Homo sapiens: one gene and its partner. The protein of the gene in region 1 interacts with the protein of each later gene in a pairwise test. Each region holds a gene or a part of one and is shown in the gene's direction. Other genes may lie near its edges.

The links. Proteins that work in one complex are often made in the same cells at the same time.
Region 2: the proteins of AAR2 (region 1) and EAPP interact in binary tests that used the Homo sapiens proteins (3 or more experiments, as listed by UniProt).

The regions. Positions count from the first base shown.
Region 1 is NC_000020.11:36,253,442-36,257,433, forward strand, and holds the end of AAR2 (protein AAR2 homolog), read left to right. Parts: intron 1-2,136; coding exon 2,137-2,304; 3' UTR 2,305-3,492; downstream 3,493-3,992. UniProt on the Homo sapiens protein: Component of the U5 snRNP complex that is required for spliceosome assembly and for pre-mRNA splicing.
Region 2 is NC_000014.9:34,515,668-34,522,703, reverse strand, and holds the end of EAPP (E2F-associated phosphoprotein), read left to right. Parts: intron 1-6,117; coding exon 6,118-6,394; 3' UTR 6,395-6,766; downstream 6,767-7,036. UniProt on the Homo sapiens protein: May play an important role in the fine-tuning of both major E2F1 activities, the regulation of the cell-cycle and the induction of apoptosis. Promotes S-phase entry, and inhibits p14(ARP) expression.

The DNA.
Region 1 (3,992 bases):
TCTCAGCTTCCATTTCCTTAAAATAGGCATTCTGTTGTATCTTTCCAGGGTATTGGGAGGATCCAGTTGGATGCTCTGTGAAACTTCTTTGAAAACAGTAAAATAGTATAAGAAGGAATCATGGGTTTGCTATTACTCTTAGGGAGGGACTGGGATCCAGGACAATCTGGAATGGGGTTTCAGATGTGGAAAAAATTACCATTCTGCTCCCCTGCCCATGTTTGTATTAAATGAAACTGTTCATGAGAGCATCAGAATAAGGGGTTGATATCCAGAATATATAAAGAACTCCTACAACTCAACAATGCAAAAACAACCCAATTTACAAATGGGCAAGGAAGTTGAATGGACATTTCACCAAAGAAGATATACAAATGGCCAATGTGCACATGAAAACATACTCAATATCCACTGATCATTAGGGAAATGCAAATCCAAACTGCAGTAAGATACTACCTCCTACCTATTAGAATGGCATGATTTAAACACACAGAGAAAATAACAGGCGTTGGCCAGGATGTGGAGAAATGAGAACCTTTGTGCATTGCTGGTGGGAATATAAAATGGTACGGCCCCTGTGAAAAACTGTGGCAGTTCATCAGAATTTAAACAGGGAGTTCCCGTATGATCCAACAGCTCCACTCCTGGGTTTCTGTGCAAAAGAACTGAAAGCAGAGACCCTAAGAGATATGTGTACACCCATGTTCATAGCAGCATTATTCACGATAGCCAGAAGGTAAAAACAACACAAATAGGCATTGACAGATGACTAGACAAACAAAATGTGGTATCTGCATACAACAGAATATTATTCAGCCTTCAAAAGAAAGGAAATTCTGACACATGCTGCATCATTAATGAACCTTGAAGGATATTATGCTAAGTGAAATAAGCCAGTTGCAAAAGGACAAATGCTGTATGATTCCACTTAGATGAGGTGCCTAGAGTAGTCAGATTCATAGAGACAGAAAGTAGAATGTGGGTTGCCAGGGCCTGGTGGGAGGAGGGAAGGGGGATAGGGTAGTCGAATTCACAGAGTTGGAAAGTAGAATGTGGGTTGCCAGGGCCTGGAGGGAAGAGGGAAGGGGGAGTTGCTGTTTAATGGCTGCAGAGTTTTGGCCGGGGATGATGGGGTCATTCTGAAGATGGATGGTGGTGATGGTTGTACAACAGTGTCAGTGTACTTAATGCTACTCAACTGTACACTTAAAATGGCTAAAATAATATGTATATTTTGCCACAGTTTAAAAAATAAAAATATTTTTAAATGGTTGAAATGGTAGATCTTATGTACAGATGCTCCTCAGCTTCACATGGGGTTATGTCTTAATAAACTGTAAATCAGATATACCGTAAGTAAAAAATGCATTGATTACACCTAACGTCCCTAACATTGTAGCTCAGCCTCACCCACCTCAAACGTGCTCAGAACACTAACACTAGCCTACAGTTGTGCAAAATCATTTAACACAAAGCCTATTTTATAAGGAAGTGTTGAATATCTCATGTAATTTCTTGAATACTGTACTGAAAGAAACAATTCAAAGTGCAGCTTCTTCTGAATGTGTATCACTTTGCATCATCATAAAGTCGAAGTGTCATAAATTGAATGTAAGTCAGGGTCCATCTGTATATTTTACCACAATTAAAAAAAAAATCAAAGACAGCTTTTAAGGGGGATAGAAGCCTCAAACTGGCAGCCTGTGGCCCATTTAGAAGATTAGAGCAGCAATTCAGTCGTGTTGGCTTGGGGCCTGGGACTTTATGGGATCCAGGGGCTTATAAGCACCCCCAAGCCTTTCTTAGGACCTTAGTACCGACTGGTGTAGCTACTACCTGTTCCTCTGGGTTACTGCCCGGGTGTCCAGTAGAACCCCCCAGGGGGTGGAGCCAGGGTAATGGCCCCCAGCCTCTGCCCAGATAGTAATTTTCCATTCTAGTCCTGCCCTAGCATCTCAGCTGGGTTTGGACCTTCTTTCTTGGTTTGGGGGGAGCATAGCAGGTGTCCTGGGCCTATGCCAGCAGCAGCTGATCTACCCGCCCCAGAAGAGCCGAACACCATGAGGAAATTTCCACAGCTTTCTCGCCCCCTGCCCTCCGTCTTCTCAGGAGTGACTTATCCTCTGTTCTCTGTAGGTTTTCTTTTCCTCTGCCTGCAGCATTGCCGTGGATGCCACCCTGAGAAAGAAAGCTGAAAAGTTCCAAGCTCACCTGACCAAGAAGTTCCGGTGGGACTTTGCTGCGGAACCTGAGGACTGTGCCCCGGTGGTGGTGGAGCTCCCTGAGGGCATCGAGATGGGCTAACTCGGGGAGCGCTCTCAGCTGCGAGGGGCCCCTTCCCACAGGGCTGCAGTCCTGGCCTCTCCATTTACTTCTTCCCATCCTGGGACCTGCCAGGGCAGCAATCTCTCCAGGTCCTGCAAAGATGGAGCCAGAATTCCCTTTTTCACTGATAAATATATTTCTTCATTGCCAAAGAGGCTGTACCCATCCTGAAGGCACATTTGTGGGTTCCCCATCAGCCAGGCCTTGGTGCTAACCTGGCTGAATTTCACACAGGCTCTTACACACACACGCTCCTAGGAGACATCTGCCTACACGGCAACCATATTTCCTCTGAATGAGAAGGAATTGAACCAAAAGTCCAAGAAAGAACTGATTGCTTGTTCCATAGGAGCTTAGGAAACAAGAAACCCTGGATTGCCCAGGGGGTCTGAGAAGTTGGTTGGTGACTTTTTTTGCGGTTAAATGAAGGGTGATGGGGAGATCAGCCCGAATTGCCGCCTGCCTCTTGCTAAATAGGAGCAGAGGACTTGGCCTGCAGCTCCTTGGGAGCCCTTGATTGGGAAGAGAGTTTCAAGGGAGGCAGCTGGATTCAATCTAGCAGGTGGTCAGCTTCAGCTTTCTCCATCGAAATCCCATTCTCCTGTCCAGAGGCCCAGTGGGTCATCTCCCAAGGTGGGTGTGGACCCTGGCCTCAGAGGCCTTGCTGGTGCTGTCACCTCCCACCTGTTCCATTCCGAGGCCTCACCCAGAAGTGGGACCCTCCCCTTCCTCACCAGAGCCACCGTGACTGTTTCTGATGACCTGGAGAGTCAACAACAACCAGAAAGGTTTCTGCCCAGAGCAGGCTTCTTAAGGCCTTTACGAAGTTTTGTGCCTTCCAAGTGCTGAAGAAGACCTGGTCAGCCTAAATCTTCCCAGTCCCGCTGTGGAGCTGTCAGTCACCGGAGTAATGAGCTCCTGGTTCCTCGGGAGTCCTTCGTGCTGTGTGGCAGGGTTCCTCTCTAGACAAGTACACAGGCCCTGCCACCCTGACATCAAACTGTTGTACTATGATCACAGTCCCTGTGCCATCCTTTTCCAAGACTGGGGCTCACACCATGTTTTTGAATGAGAATCCCTGCTGGTTGAGACTTTTGCTTCCACTTGTTTCCTTGGAGATGTTTTTCCAAGAGCATAATGTACATTAAAGTCTTCGAGTTGAGACAATCCCCTTGTGTGTGTGTGTCTCTTGCAGTTAATCCGCCTGATCTCCAGAGCAGCCAGGCTACTGTCCATAGACACACACCTCCCTCCAGTGTATGGGAGACTTGCCCAACCTCTGGAGTCTGGAAGAGGCAGGCAGCCAGTGTTCCTCCTGTTCCTCTTGAGGCCCCTGAGACAGGCACACAAGGAAGAAGGGATGAGGCCCCATGTCTCAATAATAACCCAAGAATCACCTGATATGAATTGGCTCCTCTTTTTCTCCCAAAGCCCACTCATCAGAACTAGCTGGGGAGCTTGTGAAAACTGTATCTTTAAAGGAGTGAAGTCCTGATACATGCTACAACACGGATGAACCTTGAGAATGTGCTAAGTCAAAGACACAAGGACCACCTATTATGTGATTCCATTCACGTGGCATGTCCACTAGAAACAAATCCACAAAGAGGGAGAGTCAATTAGCGGTTACCAGAGAATAAGACAGTATGGAATGGCAGTGACTGCTG
Region 2 (7,036 bases), on another chromosome or scaffold:
ACGCTCAGTGTTTACTAGAACTGAGGCTTAAAGTGCCATCTGGTGCCAAAAAGGAAGCAATGACGTAGTGGGAAGAAAGGAAAAAGAAAGAATATCAACATGCAAATTGCAAATTACAAAGAATCTCTAGGCAAACATATCTAATAACCAAAAAAAAGCAAAGCAGAGAAGACTGGAACAAATAACTAATCCTTCAATACAAAGATGTACATTTACATCCACAAGACACAGTAGCAAATGGAACCATGACCTCTTCAAATGGACAAAACAAGGAATCAAGTGAACCCTTATCACATATCACATATCACAATACTGTGATATGTGAACTCTCTGACCAAGAATTCAAAATAGCAGTTTTAAGAAAACTGAGTGATCTCCAAGACAGCCCAGGCAATTCAGAAATTTATCAGATAAATTTAACAGAGATCGAAATAATTAAAAAAATTATGGGCACAGTGGCTCATACCTGTAATCCCACTACTTTGGGAGGCCAAGCTGGGAGGATGGCTTGAGGCCAGGAGTTTGAGACCAGTCTGGGCAACATAGTAAGACTCTGTCTCTACAGAAAACGAAAAAAACTTAGTTGGTGTCTTGGCATACGCTTATAGACCCAGCTACTTTGGAGGCTGAGGTGGGAAGATCACTTGAGCCCTGGAAGTCGAGGCTGCAGTGAGCCATGATTGTGCCACTGTACTCCAGAATGGGTGGCAGAGTCAGACTCTGTCTCTAAAAGAAGAACAAAATAAAATAAAACAGAAATCTGGGAACTCAGCCGGGCACAGTGGCTCACGCCTGTAATCCCAGCACTTTGGGAGACTGAGGAGGGCTGATCACGAGGTCAGGAGATCGAGACCATCCTGGCTAACATGGTGAAACCCCGTCTCTACTAAAAATACAAAAAATTAGCTGGGCGTGGTGGCATGTGCCTATAGTCCCAGCTACTCGGGAGGCTGAGGCAGGAGAATCGCTTGAACCCAGGAGGCAGAGGTTGCAGTGAGCCGAGATCATGCCACTGCATTCCAGCCTGCGCAATGGAGCGAGACTCCATCTAAAAAAAAAAAAAAAAAAGAAATCTGGGAACTCTGAGAAATATATTTGCTGAACTAAAAAATTCATTAGAGGCTCTCAACAGCAGAAGGGATCAGCAAAAGAAAGAATCAGTGAGCTTAAAGATAGACTGTTTGAAAATGCACAATCAGAGGAGAAAGAAAAGGTATGAAGGTCTACAAGATATAAAATATTATCTCAAAAGATTAAATCTAAGAATTGGTACTCAGGAGGGAGTAGAGCAAAAGCAAGGAGTAGAAAGCTTATTCAAAAAATTAATAGCAGTAGCTGGGGATGGTGGCTGACACTTGTAATCCCAGCACTCTGGGAGGCGGAGGTGGGTGGATCACCTGAGGTCAGCAGTTCGAGACCAGCCTGGCCAACATGGTGAAACCCTGTCTCTACTAAAAATGTAATCAAATTAGCTGGGCGTGGTGGTGCATGCCTGTAATCCAAGCTACTCGGGAGGCTGAGGCAGGAGAATCGCTTGTACCCAGGAGGCGGAGGTTGCAGTGAGCTGAGATCACACCATTGCACTACAGCCTGGGCAACAAGAGCAAAACTTGGTCTCAAAAATAATAATTATAATAATAGCAGAAAATGTTCCAAAACTTGAGAAGGAGATATTTATGGCCAGAGAACACCAAACACATTTGACTCAAATAAAACCACCCCCAGGCATATAACAATAAAACAGTAAAACTGTCCAAAGGTTATGGACAAAGAGAGGATCTTGAAAGGAGCAAGATAAATGAAGCAAATAGCATATAAAGTAGCTACAGTTCATCTGGCAACAGATTTCTCAGTGGAAAGCATACAGATCAGGAGGGAGTGGAATGAAAAAAAAAAATGCCAGGCTGGGTGTGGTGGTTTATCCTGTAATCCCAGCACTTTGGGAGGCGGAAGCGGGTGGATCACTTGAGGCAGGGAGTTTGAGACAAGCCTGGCCAACACGGTGAAACCCCTCTGTACTAAAAATATTAAAAAATTAGCTGAGCATGGTGGCATTTGCCTATAATCCCAGTTTTTTGGGAGGCTGAGGCACGAGAATTGTTTGGACCTGGGAGGCACAGGTTGCAGTGAGCTGAGATTGCACCACTGCATTCCAGCCTGGGGGACAGAGTGAGACTCTGTCTCAGAAATAAAGGGCTAGGTGTGGTGGCTCATGCCTGTAATCCTAGCACTTTGGGAGGCAGGGGAGGGTGGATCACCTGAGGTCAGGAGTTCAAGGCCAGCCTGGCCAACATGGTGAAACTCTGTCTCTATTAAAAATACAAAAATTAGCTGGGCGTGTTGGCGCGTGCCTGTAATCCCAGCTACTGGGGAGGCTGAGGCAGGAGAATTGCTTGAACCAAGGAGGTGGAGGTTGCAGTGAGCCAAGATCACACCACTTCACTCCAGCCTGAGTGACAGAGTGAGACTCTGTCTCAAAAAAAGAAGAAAAAAATAAAGAGAGAAAAGAAAGAACTGGGCCAGGCATGGTGGCTCATGCCTGTAATCCTAGCACTTTGGGAGGCTGAGGCAGGTGGATCACCTGTGGTCAGGAGTTCGAGACCAGCCTGGCCAACATGGTGAAACCCCATCTCTACTAAAAATATAAAAAATTAGCCGGAAGTCGTGGCGGACACCTGTAATCCAAGCTTACTCAGCAGCCTGAGGCAGGAGAATCACTTGAACCAGGGAGGTGGAGGTTGCAGTGAGCCAAGATTGCGCCACTGCACTTCAGCCTGGGCAACAAGGGCGAAACTCTGTTTCAAAAAAAAAAAAAAAAGAAAAGAAAGAACCTTGTTATAACTGTAAGTTTTTTTTTTGTGATTTCATGATAACCATAATGCAAAAACCTATAATAGATTCACCAAAATCAAAAAGCAATGGATTAAAACATACTACCAGAGAAAATCACTTAATCACGAAGGAAGACAGTAAGGAAGGGAAGAGTTACAAAACAACCAGAAAAAAAGCAGCAAAATGCCAGTAGTTGTATTAGTCTGCTCTTGCACTGCTATAAGGAAATACCCGAGACTGGATAATTTATAAAGAAAGAAGTTTAATTGGCTCATAATTCCACAGGCTGTATAGGAAGCATGGCTGGGGAGGTCTCAGGAAACTTTTTTTTTTTTTTTGAGAGGGAGTCTTGCTTGTCACCCAGGCTGGAGTGCAGTGGCACGATCTTGGCTCACTGCAACCTCCACCACCCAGGTTCACGCAATTCTCCTGTCTCAGTCTCCCAAGTAGCTGGGACTACAGGCACACACCACCACTCCTGGCTAATTTTTGTATTTTTAGTAGAGGTGGGGTTTCACCATATCGGTCAGGCTGGTCTTGAACTCCTGACCTCAGGTGATCCACCCGCCTTGACCTCCCAAAGTGCTGGGATTACAGGCTTGAGCCAGTGCACCTGGCCAGGAAACTTTTAATGATGGCAGAAGGCAAAGGGGAAGCAGGCACATCTTACATGGCCAGAGCAAGAGGAAGAGAGAGAGGGGAGGTGCCACATACTTTTAAACAATCAAATCTTGTGAGTACTCACTATCACAAGAGCAGCACGAGGGGGAAGTCTGCCCCCAAGATCTAGTCACCTCCCACCAGGTCCCACCTCCAACATTGGAGATTACAATTTGACATGAGATTGGGGCAGGGACACAGACCCAAGCCACATCAGTAGCAAATCCTTACTTATCAGTACTAACACAATGTAAATGGACTCACTTCTCCAATTTAAAGGCAGACAGTGGCTGAATGGATCAACAAACAAGACTCAACTATATGCTGCCTAGAAGAAACTTGCTTCACTTGTAAGGACACATGGACTGAACATGAATGGGAAAAGATATTTCATGCAGCTGGAAACCAGTATAGGAATAGCTGTCCTTAAAACAGACTACAATCAAGGACTGTAAAAAGGAAACAAAGAAGTTTACTATATAAAGGGGTCAATTCAGCAAGAGGAATTTATATAACAGTATAAATATCTATGCAGCCAACATTGGAACTCCCAGGTATATAAACATTAATAGATCCAAAGGGGCTGGGCGCAGTGGCTCACGCCTGTAATCCCAACACTTCAGGAGGCCGAGGTTGGTGGATCACAACGTCAGGAGATTGAGACCAGCCTGGCCAACATGGTGAAACCCCATCTCCACAAAAATACCAAAATTAGCTGGGCATGATGGCGGGTGCCTGTAATCTAGCTACTCAGGAGGCTGAGGTGGGAGAATCACTTGAAGCTGGGAGGTGAAGGTTGCAGTGAGCCAAGATCGTGCTATTGCACTGCAGCCTGGGTGACAGAGTGAGACTCCATCTCAAAAAAAAAAAAAAAAAAAAAAAAAAATCTAAAGGGAGAGATACAATACAGTATTAGTATTGCAATACAATAATAGTAGGGGACTTCAACACTCCACTCTCAGTAATGGACAGATCATCCAGATAGAAAACCATAAAGAAACATCAGAGTTAAACTACACAGTAGACCAAAGAAGCCTAACTGACATTTACAGAACATTTCACCCAAATAATCTAATGATACACCTCAAGGAACTAGAAAAGCAAGGACAGACCAAATCCAACATTAATAGAAGGAAAGAGGCTGGGCATGGTGGCTCACACCTGTAATCCCAGCACTTTGGGAGGCTAAAGCAGGCAGATCACGAGGTCAGGAGTTTGAGACCAGCCTGACCAACCTGGTGAAACCCTGTCTCTACTAAAAATACAAAAATGAGCCAAGTGTGGTGGCGTACACCTTTAATCCCAGCTACTCAGGAGGCTGAGGCAGGAGAATCGCTTGAACCCGGGAGGCAGAGGTTGCAGTGAGCCGAGATCACACCATTGCACTCCAGCCTGGGTGACAGAGCGAGACTCCATCTCAAAAAAAAAATTAATTTATTAAATAAAATAAAAGGAAAGAAATAATAAAGATCAAGGCAGGAATGAATGAAATTGAGACCCCAAAAAACCCAAACAAACAAGCCAGAAGATTAATGAAATTAAAAGTTGATAATTTTAAAAGATACAATTGACAAACCTCTTAGAAAAAAAGAGAGAAGGCCCAAATAAATTAGAAATAGAAAAGAAGGCATAACAACTGAGACCACAGAAATACAAGGAATCAGGCTAGGCACGGTGGCTCATGCCTGTAATCCCAGCACTTTAGGAGGCCGAGGTGGACAGATTACCTGAGGTCAGGAGTTCAAGATGAAACTGACCAACATAGTGAAACCCTGTCTCTACTAAAAAATACAAAATTAGCCAGGTGTGGTGGTGCATTCCTGTAATCCCAGCTACTTGGGAGGCTGAGGCAGGAGAATCACTTGAACCCGGGGGGCAGAGGTTGTGGTGAGCTGAGATCACGCCATTGCACTCCAGCCTGGACAACAAGAGTGAAACCCCATCTCAAAAAAAAAAAAAAAAAGAAATAGAATCGTCTGGGTGCGGTGGCTCACGCCTGAAATCCCAGCACTTTGGGAGGCCGAGGCGGGCAGATCACAAGGTCAGAAGATCGAGACCATCCTGGCTAACACAATGAAACCCCATCTCTACTAAAAATACAAAAAAATTAGCCAGGCATGGTGGCGGGCGCCTGTAGTCCCAGCTACTCGGGAGGCTGAGGCAGGAGAATGGCGTGAACCCAGGAGACGGAGCTTGCAGTGAGCCGAGATCGCGCCACTGCACTCCAGCCTGGGCGACAGAGCGAGACTCCATCTCAAAAAAAAAAAAAAAGTTACTTTCAAAAAGCAGAAGGAAAGAGGATACATTTCTTCCTTACACTGTTACATACTAAAATGTTTCTTCTGCCTGGTGCAGTGGCTTGTGCCTGTAATCCCAGCTACCAGGGAGGCTGAGGCAGGAGGATCACTTGAGGCTAAGAGTTCAAGGCTGCAGTGAGCTGTGTTCACAAGTTTTAATTATTCTTAAAACAACTGTTTAAAATTTCTTTAAACTTGCTGTTTTGTTCCTGTGTCTTGTCTTTGGTTGGTATTTCAGTAAGTTTTTGGTATTCTCAAATTTTATCTAAATGGATAAACTATTAACATAGAACATAAACCCCAATTCTCCATTTCATTTTTCTCTTAGGCATGAATCATACAAAACTCAATATAGAGCAATGTTTGTAATGAATTGTTCTATTAACAAAGAGGAGGTTCTAAGATATAAAGCCTCAGAGAACAGGAAGAAAAGGCGGGTCCATAAGAAGATGAGGTCTAACCGGGAAGATGCTGCCGAGAAGGCAGAGACAGATGTGGAAGAAATCTATCACCCAGTCATGTGCACTGAATGTTCCACTGAAGTGGCAGTCTACGACAAGGATGAAGTCTTTCATTTTTTCAATGTTTTAGCAAGCCATTCCTAAACAGCCCAACTGGCATTTAATTACCCAATACTGTATATAAGGCAAATATGGACAGTTACTTTCCTCTTGCCTGTTCATATCCTTCAGTGACATTGAGGAAGCAGTGTTTCTCTTTTTAAAGGAGAATAGTTGTCAACCTTCATTCATCTCTTACATCTCTCACCCTCTCCTTTTTTTTTTCTTTGATTTTCCCCCTTATTGATGGGACTGATATTCATTCTGTTTTTGATGAACATTTGGAAACTGTCGGGCTTTTTATTAAAGCTCTGTAGAATTAAAATGTTCTGGAATTATAAGCAATCTTTGTTTCTGAGTGTTATTTTTATTTTGGATATAGCTTTGATGTAATTAAACTGGAAACTCTTTCCTGAATTGTCTGTATTGTTTTTGCTAAGATGTATCTTTATTCACCCCCACCCCACATGATGAATGACAGTATTTAGTAACTGTTACAATTGCGTGGAATAGGCTGGTAGCTTTGGCTCCTGCCTGTAATCCCAGCACTTTGGGAGGTCAAGGCGGGTGGATCAGGAGTTCAGGAGTTTAGGAGTTTGAGACCAGCCTGACCAACATGGTGAAACGCTGTCTGTCTCTACTAAAAATAGAAAAATCAACTGGGCGTGGTGGTGTGCACCTGTAATT